Regions from separate parts of the Homo sapiens genome. Here region 2 is linked to region 1. The links come from fine-mapping of genetic effects on gene expression. A gene starts in region 1. The other region holds a variant in brackets. All regions are shown on one strand. Distances are between the middles of the regions.

Evidence for each region. PIP is the estimated chance that this variant, and not a neighbour inherited with it, causes the effect.
Region 2: its variant is fine-mapped to the expression of RAB11FIP2 in whole blood (INTERVAL, PIP above 0.99).

The regions. Positions count from the first base shown.
Region 1 is chr10:118,043,281-118,051,626 of GRCh38, forward strand. It overlaps RAB11FIP2 (RAB11 family interacting protein 2), which reads right to left and starts at 3,661. Exons shown (of 5, transcript NM_014904.3): 1 at 2,531-3,661. The coding sequence starts at 2,883. CASC2 (cancer susceptibility 2) reads left to right here and starts at 3,541. Exons shown (of 4, transcript NR_026940.1): 1 at 3,541-3,823; 2 at 6,232-6,337. RefSeq lists a silencer at 3,099-3,588.
Region 2 is chr10:118,072,741-118,081,086 of GRCh38, forward strand. All of the region lies in intron 3 of CASC2 (cancer susceptibility 2), which reads left to right. Among named protein-coding and RNA genes, the nearest start is that of RAB11FIP2, 30 kb to the left of the region's middle. The variant A/AT (reference allele first, on the strand shown) is at 3,193.

The DNA.
Region 1 (8,346 bases):
TCTACAGACTCTGGTTGTTATTACTTTTCATGAGCATTAAAAAAAAAAGTCAACATCACCTACTTCTATTGTAAAAAATCAATGGATATTACACAACAGCATCAATGATTTTAACATTCTATTACTAAACATTGTATTATTTCTTTAAATCTCATGCCAGAACCAACCCAGACATCCTCTAAAGGAGGAGATACAGAAGTTCTCTTCCCAGGCCCACTCAAAGGGTTCTGGCTCAGACCCTTTTTCCCCATTCCTTAAGAGAGAAAAAAGACATATATTTTCAAGGTAAGAAAATAAGTAAAGTAATAATTTTAGTTGTCATACTTCTTTATCTATCATGACACAACTGGAAGACAAGCTGTAAATATATGTCTTCAGTGTCAAAATGTAAAAAGTGTCACACCCAGCAGTTTCATAGGACATCTAAGTTAGCTGGTAGTCCTCATCACTCGAAACAGTTTTCTAAAAAGCACTTGGGAATATGCTGAAAAAGTTTAGCAATGTGCAGAATATTAAATATCTTCCTTGAAATATACCGGCGGCTCAAGTCTGTCTCTTACTGGGCCACAGGTACAGCTGTGCTAGAAAAGGAAGCTATTAAATATATTAAAAAACTAGAAATATTACCAATAAAGATATCTCATCAAATACATGGTCCCCATTTATCCACAAATAAAATGTTAAGGGTTTAGCAATATATGAAAATCACTTTGAATGCAATAACATCACAAACCCTGTTGATAACATTTAAAAGCATTTTACCCCTAAAGTTCTAATCAATTTTATATAATAGCCAGTAGAGAATTTCTATAAGGAGAGACCATAATATTAGAGTATTGCTCACACCAAATGTATTGTAACTGTGATGTTGCCCAGGACTAGGAGTAAAACAAGAAGAAATTGTAAAAGGTTATTTCATCCTCAGACTCCTTGGGTTCACATTTGGTCCTACTTTCACTAGGAAAATTTATGTTTCAGAGAAGGCCTGAAATACATGATCCATGAATATTAAAGTACTATAAATGAAGTGAGGAATTTGAAGGTGCAATATACTTAATAGTTTACATTCAAAACACGTTAAATATTTACTAAGTGTCACCCAAAATTGGCAATTTGAAACAGATTATTTGGTAATTATCCATTTTTCACTTTCAATTTGATAAAGAATCCCTCGGAGGAAACTGAATGCCACTCTTTAGGTATCAAATAATTTTATTATTCAAATCACTGATATATATTAAACTTTACATTTAACTTTTTCTCTCCTTCTAAAATATTTTCATCTCAATTAAATGGTACCATTTTTCCTCCTGCATTCCTAGTATTTCTGATCTCTCTACACTTTTACTCCACATATATTAAATCTTAGGTTAAGACCTGATTTAAAATGAAACAAAAAAACTCCAATCAAGAGAAGCCTGAGAGTAGAAATGTACAGAAAAGAACAAGAGAGAGTCGTTTTAAAATGTAAAGAATTAACATAAACTTCAAGAAAAATATCATTGTAAGAAAGTTTTTTAAAGAGTAAATAAATTCAATTATAACTGAACAAAACACCAACACTATTTTGGAAATGGAAAGTCCTCTTAGAAGTTCAACCAGTATTTTTCTCTCACTAATTTCATTAATATAATGTCCTTTTAAGTTTATGGAAGGGGTGAGTATACTTAACTCTAAAAACATATTTTTTTTCAATTTAAGACACAATATCCTAGTGTTAATTTATATTATGATTTTTTAAATTAAAATGTATCTAACTCAAGCTCAAAAGTCATACTGAAAAGACCACTGAAGATGTTATCAAATCATTTCATCACAAAAATTTATCATTCTCTCCATCCTACAGCATTTAATATGGTCTAAACACAATAGCTTTGGAAAATCAATTCTGAATACAATAACTCTGATGTAATTGCAAATTCAAAGGAAAATGTAAGTGCATTCGAAGTTGAGGATGTCTGTACATACTTTTAAAACTTTTTTTTTTTCTAACAGGTATAGACTCCCATCAAGGCACACTGACCCTGAAAAATGGCTGAGCTAAAATAAAAGCTGTGTTTATAACGCTGAAACGAAATACTGAGTTCTAAATCTGGTGATTTATCTTTTGACAGCTACAAAGTGCGACACATCAACATTACATTGCCAGATTTAATTTCTCATCTTCCATTTCATTGATAATTGTAAGGTTTAAAATCCATAACAATTTATATGAAGTTCTAGTTGGTCAATACTGTGATCCAGTCCTCATACTGAAACAATGTTAACTTACTTAAAATCCACCACAAAATATTCAATTATTTGACAGATGTTTAACAGAAAGAATAAGGGATCATTAATGATTCCATTTAAAAAATATTTCATCACGAGTGCTACTTTTACTTCAGATTCATGCAAATATGGTGCTTAAAACTGGATCATATTTCAATCCAAAAACCAACGCCCGAAGTATACGGATAATTTCCAAGAACAGAAAAACCATAAATAAGATATAAACTCCCCCAAATTCAAAATAAATTACATAACTTACTCTGTTTTCCTTCTTTGTTTGTCCTCAAAGATGTCATTGAGATTGATTGCCACCTGCCCTAAAAATTTATCCAGACCCACCAGGGACCTGTGCATAACTATAAGGAAAAGAATGTATTTCTCTGGACTTCCCTGAATTAGCAATCCAGGTAGCTCGAAAGAGGCCTCCTCCTTCCAAACTGGCTCAAGGGTTTTCTCAGCTACAGAGGTGGAGTACTTTTCCTTGCCCAGCTGAATTATAGTGTATGTGTCATTGGTACCACTTTTGCCTTTTGGCTTCAGATCTTTGGCTTGGAGCACTGTGACCTGCACGTGGGTTGGAAACCACTTTTGGGCTTGCTCGGACAGCATCATCCTGTCCTGTTTCTCTGCCCCCGAGTTCCCTAGCACAGGCAGTGCCCCTCCCGGAGGGAGAGCCTAATTCCTTAATCACTGCATCCTAAGGACACTTAACGGAAACAGGCAGGCTCAGGGCTCCCCGACTTCCCTATGGCTGATGTCAAAACGCCTCGCGGGGGCAGCCCAGGGGCACGGCCGCTCCGGGGGTCCCCTTTCGTCTGGAGAAACACAGAGGCCCACCATCACCTGGCCGCGCCGTGCAGGCCTCTGCGCGGACCCCCGCCCCTGTCTCCACCTTCCCCAGGCCTGCGGGGCACGTGAGGCCTGGCCACACGGACCCGGGCGGAGGGCTGCGGGGGTGAAGGGAGCCCCCGCCCCAATTCTGCACCCCTGGCCTCCCGCCTGCCTCCTTGCGGCCGAGCAGCCTCCGCTGCCTCCGCGCCTCCCGCCCGCCCGGCGTTCGTCCGCAGGCTCGGCCCGGCTCCTCCTCCCGACCCCGGTAATACGAACCGCCGGCGGCTAACGCGGCCTCGCTCCCTCTCGCAAACCTCTCCCTCCTCCTCCTCCCCCTCGCCTCAGCTCCTCCTCTCGGGCGGGAGCGGGTAGCCAGGGGTGGAGTGGGGGAGGGCGGGGAACGCGGCCGCCCCGGCGCCGGCGGGACGTGGGGCGGGCAGCGGGCTGCAGGGCTGCGGGCGCTTGGTTCGGCCTGGCCCGGCCGGCGGCTCCTAACACCGGGCGGGCGGCTGCGGCGGCACTTCCGGGTTGGCCTTCTCCATGTTGGTCTCGGGAACGTGAAGGGGCGGGGCCTCGAGGTCAGGGGTCAGCACCTCCCTGGTTGCCGTGGCGACTGGAGGCGCGCGACGCGGGCGCAATGGCGGGGACCCGGGGCTTGATGCTGCTTGGGCCTGGCCCAGTGGCGGGTCCTAGGGACGTGGGTACCTGCAGAGGCCGGCAGGTGAGCCCTGGGGAGGGCTGGGGACCGCTCGTGAGAGGAGGTCATCAAAGACCCGGAGACGCCCCTAACTAGGGCGTCTTTGAGGGCAGGGGATCTGTGTTCGCTGTGTCCTGGATGCCCAGTGCCTGGCAGGAGCAGGTCCATAAATGGTGTTGGAACGAATCAGGCCTCTTCACTGACCGAAAGGAAACTTTTCTCCAATCTCCTATCCACCCTTCTCTTTTTGAAAAGTCCGTAAATTGACTGAAAATGACATCCCCCACCCAGACGAAGGGCGATAGGGAAGCAAATAGTTTCCACAGGGAGTAGAGATGTAGGGAGGCACTGGGCTGGCATCAGAAGACCTGGTTCCGGCCGCGCCTCTGCCGCTATCAGTGTGTGTGACCTTGGCCGAGTCATTTCACCTCCATGAGCCTCAGTGTTTTCACGAGTAAAAAAGCCAGTTCTACCTCATGTCTAAGACTCCATCACGACTCTATGGGCTCGACGTCAAAAGGACCCCCGTGGGGACTCACACTGTGGTGGACTGTGCAAATCATGTGGAGACCATGCCCCAAACACGGGTTTCGAGTTTCAGGGGATAATACATGTGCCTTTCCTAGCACAATGCGGCACATAAATCTCCTTTTGCCCCTCTATTTCTCAATTGGAAGAGACGCTTATGTACCACCCCATTGCTGTTAATTCTGTTCGTGTCTTACCTTCCCAAGGAAATTCTAAGTTTTGGGACTGCCTTGTCTATCATGCAGTCCCTTCATAGTGGCTAGCATGCAGCAGACAATTTACTGAATTACTTAATGCCTTTTTTCCCTTTACAAGACTAATTTTGAGAGTAAAACAATATGATACATGTAAATGCACGTTTTTTTAACTTAAATGGCCATAAACATGTAAAGTATCGTGTTTATTATTTTCAAGCAAGGTTTAAAACTTCTCATTCAAGGCAGAATTTTTCATCCCTGGGAGACAGTGTATGAAAAGGCCATGTGTGGAAAACAGAACAAAATCATCGTACTGCGAATATAGCATCTGGATCCCAGAGTGCACAGTTGTCAACTTTAAAGAAAAATATTCTTAGGGATTTTTAAACAGTACGTTGGAACAGTCAATGGTGGAATTTCACCAGGATCTCTAAGGAGAAATAATTTGACACCTGAAACTTACAAAAACCAAATAAACATCATGAAATCAAATTTAATTAAGTTTAGAGTTCTTATACATTTTAAAAGTCTTCATGTCTCTATTAAAGGTTGTAATTAAACAATAGAAAATTATAATAGTGGATGTGTATTTCTGAAGAGCTTAAATTGGTAAGCTTTATTAATGATTATAAACTTGTTTACAAATATAATTTCACTCATCTCTGAAATATAGCCATCTCTAGGGTAGAAGTTGGCAGCAGTAGTTCACAGCAACTCAATAACATACTCCAACACAACTCAGAGAATACTCTAAAGGCAAGAGCTGAACAATTGGAATTACTAACCTCTCTTTCTGTAGCACCTAAATTTCTTTTGAGTTTTCCCAACAGCTGGCTAGAGCCAAAATTGTTTAGTTTTACTGGTGAAATCAGAAATTATGACTTAAAATTTTTTAAGCCAGAATAAGAAAATAACATATTTTTGCCCCCGGGGAAAGCAAATAAACAAACAAACCAAATGAGCTAAATAGAATCTGGGATTGCATTATAATAAGGAAATGACTTCCTATAGAATGTTTTCCTTTTTTGATTATATTAAGAGAATAAAAATATGACAGTGGAGTCAAAGATATGGTTGGCTTATAGTGAAAAATAATGACAATTACATAAGATCTGGGATCAAAGTGCTTCTCCCAAAATGTTTATTGTTTTACAGTTTTAAAAATTCTTTTGACTAATTCTAAGATATACATGGACAACAATTTAAAAAGGAAAGGATTGCGTGTGTAAGGACAACATACCAGAATTGAAGAGAGTCACTTTTTAAAAAATTATCCTATGACTAATGATACATCCGGAAATGTATGGTACAATTCCAAAATCAAAGTCTTGGGAAAATAATATATTTTAGAAGGAAAATGCTGAACATTCTAATTTTAAACTGTTAACAATGCCTACAGCAATGAATAAGAATGCTTTGACCAGAAAGTTAAAATAGTCAATATTTATTCCCCATGAGTAGAGGATTTCACAGATGAAAATATTTACTACATGTTGCCCCTTTCAGTCCCATAAAGAATAAGTCCCATAAGGAGACCTATTCCAGACATTGGGGGAGATTTTCCCTTTGGACAAAGGCATCTCTAAAATCACATCTTGCAAATCTGTTGCAGAACAATTATAATGCTCTCATGTTTAAATAGCCCACTGGGTCAAGCGTGTTAATGCTCCCATGTACATTATGTAATGGATATTAATTATTTTCCAGATGGAGATTCAGAAACATAAGGACAACAAGAAACTTCCCCAAGGTATCATTATAGTCTTTAGACTTCAGACACACACCACACCTCAAATATATACACAACTGAAAGGTATGTAAAATTCATATATATGTACATATGACAAAGCCCCAGAGTTATATTGGAGATACATAGATAGATGATAGATAGATAGATAGATAGATAGATAGATAGATAGATAGATAGATCAATCTCCTTGTAATCGGTTGAAAAGTGAAAGAGTATTTGGCAAATTGACTTGAAATTATTATGGCAATGAACTGGCATTTGGGGATTTTTGGGGATTGTTTTGTTTTGTTTTCATCGCTGGACTGATCAATTTCTCTTCTGGGATTGGGCAGTGTGTGGATACATTTTGTGATGCCCAAGAAGTAACATGGTATGTAGTGTAAAGAGCTCTAGTCAGCAGCCTGGGTCTTAATCCCAGGGCTGCCTATTACTAGCTACATCTCTTTAGGGAAGTCATTTTTCTTCTTTGGGCTGTCTTGTAAAATGAGACTTTTATAGCAGCCACCAAAGGATCCTCTAACATTTAAAGATTCTACATAGTATATCCACAACGCAAAGAAGCAAATTGCATTATAATTATCTAACTGAATTTGGTCAATATACTAAAGCAGATTTCCTTTTTATGTAACATATTAATAAAGAATTCTCTAATTCAGGAGAAAAAAATTATTTTTTAAGATTTCCTGACAGCTCTGTCTCCCAAATGAAGGTAATTAATGATCACAGAAAGCAAGTGAATATAAGTTTTATTAATAGGCTCTGCATGAGGCAATTGACACCAACAGCTCAAGATTTGGAAGAAATTGCATGTATGTGCAAGTGGTTTTGAGCAGCCTTGAACTTTTTAATTGTAGTAATAAGTTTATAACTTCTATCTGTATTATTTGTAGCTTTTTTGAACTGTGAAAATATGCTGAGATTGGTAAGAATTTACGGAGCAAAATACACATTTGCATATAAGAAGGTTTTGTATGGGAACATCTTTCAATTTCCTTTTCATAGTATCATAGTATTCCATTGTATAATTTTTATTCCTACAACAAAATGCATATTAATGCATAGAACACGAATTGATTAACTTTAACTGGTATATGGCATTGGGTGAGATGAATAAGCCCCATTTGATCTTTTCTCCTTCCAAAGGACATTTAAGTTATTTCCACTTTTTCAATTATCATAAACAATGCTGCATAAACATCTATATATCTCCTATGCACATATGCAGGGATTTGTTTTGGTAATTGATGATGAAATTATTGGGAGTTTGTGAATGAGAGTATGGAACACCCATGGGCCTGAGTATTAGACTTGAATTCTAATCCTGGTTCTACAAACTAAGGAGTTATAGACCTGGCAAGCCATATTCTGTCTGTGCCTCAGGGACTCCTTCCAAATCCAGAATTCTCAAACTCCTTTTGTTATATTTACTGAGAAGCAGAGATTATTGCTATTGGAAGAAGATTTTGTGACTACTTTGGTATTTGTCTTCAAATTTCAATTGTCTCATCATCATGAGTCTTTCTGAAATCTTCCAGAACATTGCTGCTTCTACAGATTTAGGTGCGGGTTAATAAGGGCTGGAGAGTTTTGATTATTCCTGAAGGCAATGATTAGCAGAGTTATATAAACTTATCATATTTGTACTTTGTAAACATCTGCTAAATTTTTTATGTTCAATTAAAATCCAAGACAGGGATATTTTTTAAACAAAGAACGGGGTATTCAAATTATAATATTTCTAGGACGGCCTGGAATCCATAAAATTTCTGGGATAATATTTCTGGAAATACATTCATTTAGAGAGCATTAAACCGGTGGGCGGATGGCAAAAACATTTTGTGGTGGTGGTTTTTTCCCCCATGTGAGATCGACTGTTCTCTGCCTTTCTACTTATTTGATCTATGTTAAAAAAAGTAAAGGGCTTTTGTTGTGTTTTGTTTTATTTGTTATATTTTGTGTGTTTGATATAAAGCCTGGGGGAAAATGACATTTTGAAGGATAGATCCAACTCTTCTTGTTCCAGGGCCAGATTTTAAACATTTCTCCTAAAGCAACTTTCAACTGACCTGAAC
Region 2 (8,346 bases), 29 kb after region 1:
AGATACAGGAGCTACCATATTGCAAATTAAATTCTGGCCTCTAACTTATTAAAAACAATAAGTTGAAGTTGCTATACCACTTGGGAAATTGGTGAAATAATCTTAAAAAATGCTTCTTTAGCATTTTCAACAGACTCTTTGTCTGTTGAAACAGAAAATGGCATAAAAATCATTTTGAAAAATTGGTAGTGTATTAGTCTGCTTAGGATGCCATAAGAGAATACTACAGACTGGGTGGCTCAAACAACAATTTATTTTCTTGTAGTTCCTGGAGGCTGGAAGTCCAAGTTCAAGGTGCCAGCAGGGTTGGTTCCTGGTGACACCTCCCATGCAGCCTTGTGAATGGTCTGCTTTCTCTGTCTCCTTACGTGGTCTTTCCTCTCTGTGTGAGCATTTCTGATGTGTCTTCAACATCTTGTAAGGATTCCAGTTCTAGTAAATTAGAGCCCCCCATCCTTTTGAGCTCATCTAACCTTAATTACCTTCTTAAAGGCCCTGTCTTCAAATACAGTCACCTTGGGGATTGGAGCGTCAACATACAGATTTGGTGGAGACACAGTTCAGTTCATAACAGTATGAACTACAAATTTCCTGTGTAAATTAAAAGTCATAAATCCTGCAGTTACCTGTATCTATGTACTGATTTATTATGAATTGCTGAAAATTTTGGTTCCTTTTCTGAATATTAAATATTATTCGTAAGACTGAATAGTTTTATGATCTCTAGCTTTTGACAAATTTAACTCTCCTGTTAAGCTATAAAAAACATCTCTGATAAATCATCATCCCCGTGATTAATTTACATAAACTTTATGCTAGGCAAAATCATCAAATTTCAAGTAATTTTAGTAAATTTTATAAATTTGGCAAATTGGTGATTCAGAGACTTTTTATTATTTATAAATTATTCAGCCATAGAAAAACATGCTAGGAATAGTCATACCCTCACCAGTATCACAATTGGCAGTAGAAAGGTCTTGCATGTGGTGATGACAAGCTAGAAGAGGTCTCCAGAATTCTTTGGATATCATTTTAAATATCCCTAAGGGCTGGGTGGTCCTAAGACTATAAAAGAATGCAAGATTTCATCAGGTCAGATAGAAAATACATTTGCAAATCTAAGGCCTTCATCAGAGCCAAAGGTCTTTAGAATTCGACACATCCTAAAAGTCAAAGAAACGCAAAATTCAAGCAAGGGTTCAAACTGGGTAAGAGTTACAGGCCTCTGTGGGTAGACAAAGAACTAGGCAATGTGAACTCTGAGACCAACTACTTTCACATTAAAAAACTTAATAGCCTTTTTGATATATAGTTCTCTTACCATATAATTCATCCATTTGAAATATACAATTTAGTGGTTGTTAGTATATTCACAGATATATGCTATCATCACTACAGTCAGTTTTAGAACATTTTCACCTCAAAAAGAAATCCTATACCCTATAGCTACCAGTCCCCTATCACTGCATCTTTCTCCCCCCAGCCGTAAGTCACCACTAATCTACTTTCTGTCTCTATAAACTTTCCTGCTCCGGACCTTCAAATGAATGAAGTCATATAATATGTGGTCTTGTGTAACTAACTTATTTCACTAAGTGCGTTTTCAAGGTTCATCTATGTTGTAGCACATATCAATACTTCATTTTTCTTCTGGCTTCTTTTAAGATTTATTTATCTTTGGCTTTCTGCAGTTTCAATATGATATGCCTAGGTGTATTCTTTTTGGCATGTATTCTGCCTGGTGTACTTGGAACTCCCTGGATCTGTAGTTTGGTGTCCGACATTAATTTAAGGAAATTCACAGTCATTATTGCCTCAAATATTTCTTCCGTTCCTTCCTTTCTTCTCCTTCTGCTATTCCCGTCATGCACATCATGCACATGTTACATTGATAGTTGTCCTACCATCCTTTGATATTCTATTCCATTTTTTTCAGTCTTCTTTGCCTTTGCTCTTCAATTTTGAAAGTTTCTATTGACACATCCTCAAGCTCAGAGACTCTGCTTAGCCATGTCCGGTCTACTAATGAGCCCATCAAAAGCATTCTTCACTTCTGTCACAGTATTTTGCTCTGTATCATTTCTTTTTTATTCTTTCCTAGAACTTCCGTCTCTCTGATTACGTTATCCACATATTCTTGTGTGTTGTCTACTTTTTCCATTAGAGCCCTTAGTATATTAATCATAATTGTCTTAAATTTCCAGGCTGATAATTCTGACATTCTTGCCATATTTGAGTCTGGTTTTGATGTTTGCTCTTTCCCTTCAAACTATGTTTTTGTTTTGTTTTGTTTTGTTTTTTGTCTTTTAGTATGCCTTGCAATTTTTGAAAGCTAGAGATAATGTACTGGGTACAAGGAACTGCAGTAAATAGGCCTTTAGTAATGTGATAGTATGGTGTGGAGGGGAGAGAAAGCATTCTATAGTACCATGTATGATTCAGCATTGGTCTTTTAGTGAGCCTGGGTCCCTGGGCTGTGAACTTCACAAATGCTTCCCAGTAACCCTGCCAAACTTCCCCCGCCATAGTGCCATAGAGGGGGCTGGAGTTGGGCATTTCTCTACACCTAGGTTGGTTAGGCTCTGGTAAAATAGTTTCTTTTCAGGGCAGGTCTTATTAAGAAGAACAGAGTGCTCTGCATACTCCAAAACAGTTCCTTTTCTCCTCCCCCTGCCAGAAGCATGAGGGGTTTTTTCTCTATCTCCACTGTTAGAACCTGGAAACCAGTTTCTGGTTAGAACCTGGGAATCAGGTTCAGGTTAGAACCAGAAACCAGAAGTTTGTTCATGAGTTTTTAGAGTCAAATAATATTCCATTGTATGCCACATTTTGTTTATCCATTTGCGTATTGACAAGCATTTGGGTTGTTTCCACCTTTTGAATATTCTGAATAATACTGTTATAAACATTCATGTGTAAGTTTCTACGTGAACATATGTGTTCATTTCTCTTGGGTATATACCTAGTAGTGGAATTGCTAGGTCATATGATGACTCTACATCTAATCATTTAAGGAATGACTGAACTATTTTTCAAAGTGGCTGCACCATTTTACCTTCCCACCAGCAATGTATGAGACAGTTCTAATTTCTACATATCCTCATCAATACTTGTTGTTACCAAACTTTTTGATTTTTTAAATTATTGTAATTGTGATAAACTACATGCCACATAAGTTTTGCCATATTAAGC[A/AT]TTTTTTTTTTTTTTGGAGATGGAGTCTGGCTTTATCACCCAGACTGGAGTGCATTGGCACCATCTTGGTTCTCCACAACCTCCACCTCCTGGGCTCAAGCACTTCTCCTGCTTCACCTGCCCAAGTACCTGGGACTACAGGTGCACGCCACCACACCTGGCTAATTTTTGTATTTTTAGTAGAGACGTGTTTCACCATGTTGACCAGGCTGGTCTTGAACTCCTGACCTCAGGTGATCTCCCTGCCTCGGCCTCCCAAAGTGCTGGAATTACAGGCATGAGCCATTGCACCCAGCCCATATTAACCATTTTTAAGTGTAGTGTTGAGTAGTGTTAAGTACACTCACACTGTTGTACAACCATTCTCCAGAACTCTTCATCTTAAAACTCTAAAACTCGGTACCCATTAAAAAAAAACTCCACATTCCCCTGCATCCCCAGCCCCTGGCAACCACCATTTTGCTTTCTGTCTCTATGAATTTGACTCCTCTAGGTACTTCACATTAGTGGAATCATGCAGTATTTGTCTTTTTGTGAATGATGTTTCACTTACCATAACGTCTCAAAGTTCACTTATGTTGTAGTATGTATCAGAATTTCCTTCCTTTTTAAGGCCATTGAATGTATATCCTACATTTTGCTTATCCATTCATCCATCAGTGGACACATAAATTGCTTCTACCTTTTGGCTATTGTGAACAATATTGCTATGAACATGGCTGTACAAATGTCTCTTGGAGATTCGGCTTTCCTCTTCTTTTTCTTTTTTTTTCAGAGACAGGGTCTCTCTCTGTTTCCCAGCCTGGAGTGCAGGGGTGCAATCCTAGCACTTCACAGCCTGAAACTCTTGGGCTCAAGTGATCCTCCTCCCTCAGCCTCCTGAGTAGCTAGGACTTCAGGCATGTGACACCACACCCAGCTAATTCCATTCTTTTGGGTATATTCCCAGAAGTGGAATTGTTGGATCATATGGTAATTATATTTTCTGAGGGACTGCTATACTATTTTCCATAGCAGCTGCACTATTTTGCATTCCCACCAACAGTGCATAGGGTTCCAATTTCTCTACATTCTTGCCAACATTTTCTGTTTTTTTTAATAGTAGCCCTTTTAATCGGTATGAAGTGATATATCACTGTGGTTTTGACTCGCGTTTCCCTAATGATTAGTGATGTTGAGCTCACCTTCATATTTTGAAGTCCATGACATTTCAACCATGAAACAAAGTTCAGTGAAACTCATCAGGGTCTTTAACAAGTCTAGTGCCTATGTGGGCCAAAATCTCTATGCACATGTGACCTAAATTACATGGCATGGTAACAGGTTTCCTTTAGTGGGAAAGAATCTTTTAGCTCTGGGGAGATTTAAAATTAAGTGTAGGAAGGATTGCAATAATTAAAATGAAAGTAATAATATTTGGTGGTTAAGAAGAAAGCTGTTCATATTTCTTATTTTACAAATTTGTCTTCTTGGAATGACAGTCTTATGACTTCAGTTGAAAATTTGTAATTGTGTGATTTTGACTTAGGGCGACCAATTTCTCCTGATTTGCTCAGAATTGTCTTCATTTTAAAATAGAAAGCTCTGTATACCAGACATCTCCCTCAGTTAGGGATGGTTTATCACTTTATTTAGACTTGAGATTTTAAACTGAAATGTTACTAAGCTCATATACAATATTGGACCATTTAAAAGAACTTCAGTGTCATCAGGTTTAATGTACAAGATATAAAACAGCTTCTTAAATATCTGCTGTAATTTCTATAATTTAGATAATTGAAGTACTTAAAATATAGAATATATTAAATTTAGAAACAAAGTTTAAATATTTGAAAGTGTTTAATTAATGAGACCAAACATTATTCAAAGCGCACTTAAAAATAATTATTAACATTTGCTATACTTATATACAGACTAAAGAGATTTGTGAGCTGAACTTAATGACTATTTATCTGGAAGACAAAAATCCCATTTCATTCTGTGTTGCCACAACTGAATCTTAAGTTTAAGGTTTTCCTTAGTTAAATTAAACACCAATTGTTTAAACCAAAAACAAATTGAGAAACAGTCTTTTGGGAATACTAAGCTACTCTATAGGACCAAAAATTGGCATCAACTACAGCTCATGATATTCAAAAATACTTCCATTTAAGGAGTTTCAAAAGGACTCAGATTATCCTGGTAACATGGGGTATATTAATAGTTGTCAAGCAAATCAATAGAACACATTAATTATTGTAACCATATATATATTTGAAATGAAGACATCATTTTTGAGAGTCTGAAGATCAATTTAAACTGCATTTTGTTGTTTTGAGGACACAGCTCAATTTCACTGACTGACATTTTCAGCTAAAAAATGGTCTCAGTACTTTCCTTCTCTTAATAGAGCACTGCCTCCGTAATGTCGCTAAAGATTAAAGAGGATTAATGCCCATTCTAACAATTTGTAAATATCACTACATTTAAATATTCTAAATTGCTTATACTTAACCAGGATTAAAAGGAATGACCTCTTAAGATTCACAATTTTTTTTTTTTTGCTTTATTTCTCTGACAAAAACTATTTTTGGAAATAAGGTTTATCCTGCAAGCTTTACCAAAGTGGTAATTTCAATAGAAAGTCAAAGAAAACATGACGTCCAAAGAACCACCAAGCTGTAGGCAACAATATTTATAGGCACTCAGATTCATGCACATTCTTTTCAGGCTACAAAAGGCCTGTTATCCCACTTGGGGTAAGCTAGTCTTGAATACTGATTTGAAGTATCACAACGAGTGACAATTGCTTCCTAGCTACTCCACTTTGTTATATGCTTATCTCTGGAGTATGTTCCATCTCAAGCATGGCTCATGGCTACTGGCCTATTTAGATTGAAAACAAGAGAAAGGCAGCATGTGTCTTCCACTGTAATCTGTGACACCACAGCAGTTTCCCTGGTAGGGATGTACAGAGTAACCCTGCAGAACTCACAGGTTATAACAAACTGCTGCTCTGTTACCCCAGAGGAGATTAAGTGATGATCTGGAAGACAAAAATCCCATCTTATTTTGTTACCAAAACCCAATCTTAAGAATTAAATACTTATGAGGTCGGGCGCGGTGGCTCACGCCTGTAATCCCAGCACTTCGGGAGGCCGAGGCGGGCGGATCACGAGGTCAGGAGATCAAGACCATCTTGGCTAACACGGTGAAACCCCGTCTCTACTAAAAATACAAAAAATTAGCCAGGTGTGGTGGCGGGCGCCTGTAGTCCCAGCTACTCCGGAGGCTGAGGCAGGAGAATGGCGGGAACCCGGGAGGCGGAGCTTGCAGTGAGCCGAGATCGCGCCGTTGCACTCCAGCCTGGGCTACAGAGCCAGCCTGGGCTACAGAGCGAGACTCCGTCTCAAAAAAAAAAAAAAAAAAAAAAAAAAAAAAAAAAAATTAAATACTTCTGGGGAAAAGCCATAACATTCCAAAAGACAATTTATTATAATAGATATGCTATTACATTAAAGACAATTGCAGCCTTCTAATTCATTCTTAGTTTAAATGTATCATGGTTGAGGGAAAAAGGCTAGGTTAATAATATGAACACATTTTTATCAACATGAATCTGAAATGTTTTTGAAAAGCCTGTTATATAGATTATTAGAAAGGTTAGATTTTCCAAAAGGTTAATATTTATTTTTAACAAGAATGATTTCTTAAATTATAGTTTTAAAACGTTAATAATTGCCAGTGGTTTCAAATAGACTTCCTTTTATCAGGGAGCTGGGATCTTTTGGTTCACTAGACCTCCTTGATCTTAGGCTGTATAAATTGTTTAGTTTTATTTGGTGCCATAGGGACTCCTTCAAACTTATCAGAAGCCTCAGTTTAATACAGAAAAAGAGAGGCTCAGACATGTCAATATAATACTGTTAATGTTTTCCACGTTTGTGATTTCAGGGTCAAAGTCAAACCTCTTATTGTATTAATAATAGCAAAGCAAAAATAGGCTTTGTAGTTGTGAATTCATGGTTTTAAAGAATAATTTCCCTATGTTTTTATTAATTCAAGCCATCCATTGAACCACTCAAGGATTCCATTATGTATTTGAATGATGTATCTCATACTGTACCTTTAACTTTGGAAGACTATGAGAATGGATATGCGTGTGATTCTTTACAGTCATCAACATAGGATATTTCCTTTGTTCAAAAGTTATGTTAATTAATAACATTAAAAGTTATATTTAGTAAAATAAACTTTAGAGCTTAGCAGTAAAATAATTAAAAGCCAGTTTTCCTCTACTCATTATTTAAAAGAGCATGGTTTGCAAGTTAGTTCATATGCTATGCATTATGAAGCATGGCCATATATTCTGGATTCTTTTACTATCTGATTTGTAGACCCAGCAATAATCAGAATTTTAATAAAAAAGTTCCAGAGAAAACCCAGAAAGCCTCAGCTTACCAAGCGCTTTCCTTTTGAGAGTGTATTGAATCCACGTTCCATTCAGCACTGATTAGTGGTAAAACTAAACCAAAGCTGTCGGCGTATTGCAAAAGGCCTTTGCTTGACCAAAGCTCTTGTTTAAGACAAAGCTGCCATTGATGTCCACCCCAGGTGACAAGGGGTGAGAATGGAGTGACTTGGCAGCTTCTTTTTCTACCTGTGGGTCTTGCCCTTCTGTCATTCCCACCTGACACCCTTCCCCACCTTAAACTTGATATTGGTGGATGGGAGCAGGAATTCACAATGCAGCTAAAATAAAGATGCTCAAAGCTCCCTCTTCTGTATGGCAGACCTGGATTGTGTGCCTTTGAGAGGGGCAAGCTTGTCTTTCCTATTCCCTAAGAAATATATCCTTACCTAGCCAAACCTATTTCCCCTTCCTGAGGGCCTATGCAGGCATGCACAACACAGCAGTGTTCTACGTTAGATTTTGCACCAGGGTTCACTCAGGGTCTGCTGGTGGCTGTGAGAAGAACCTCTCAGCTGGAATGGTTCATGAGTGAATGGTAAAGCCTAGGTTTCAATTACTTTGGAGAATGGAACGTTTCTTAGCTTTCTTTCCTCATGAACTTCGTGGTATCATTTGTCATGCCATTTTGCCAGCTATGCACTTTTTTACATAGTTTTGTTTGGTTTGCAACTCACGAATATCAATCAAAGAAGTTGTTTCAT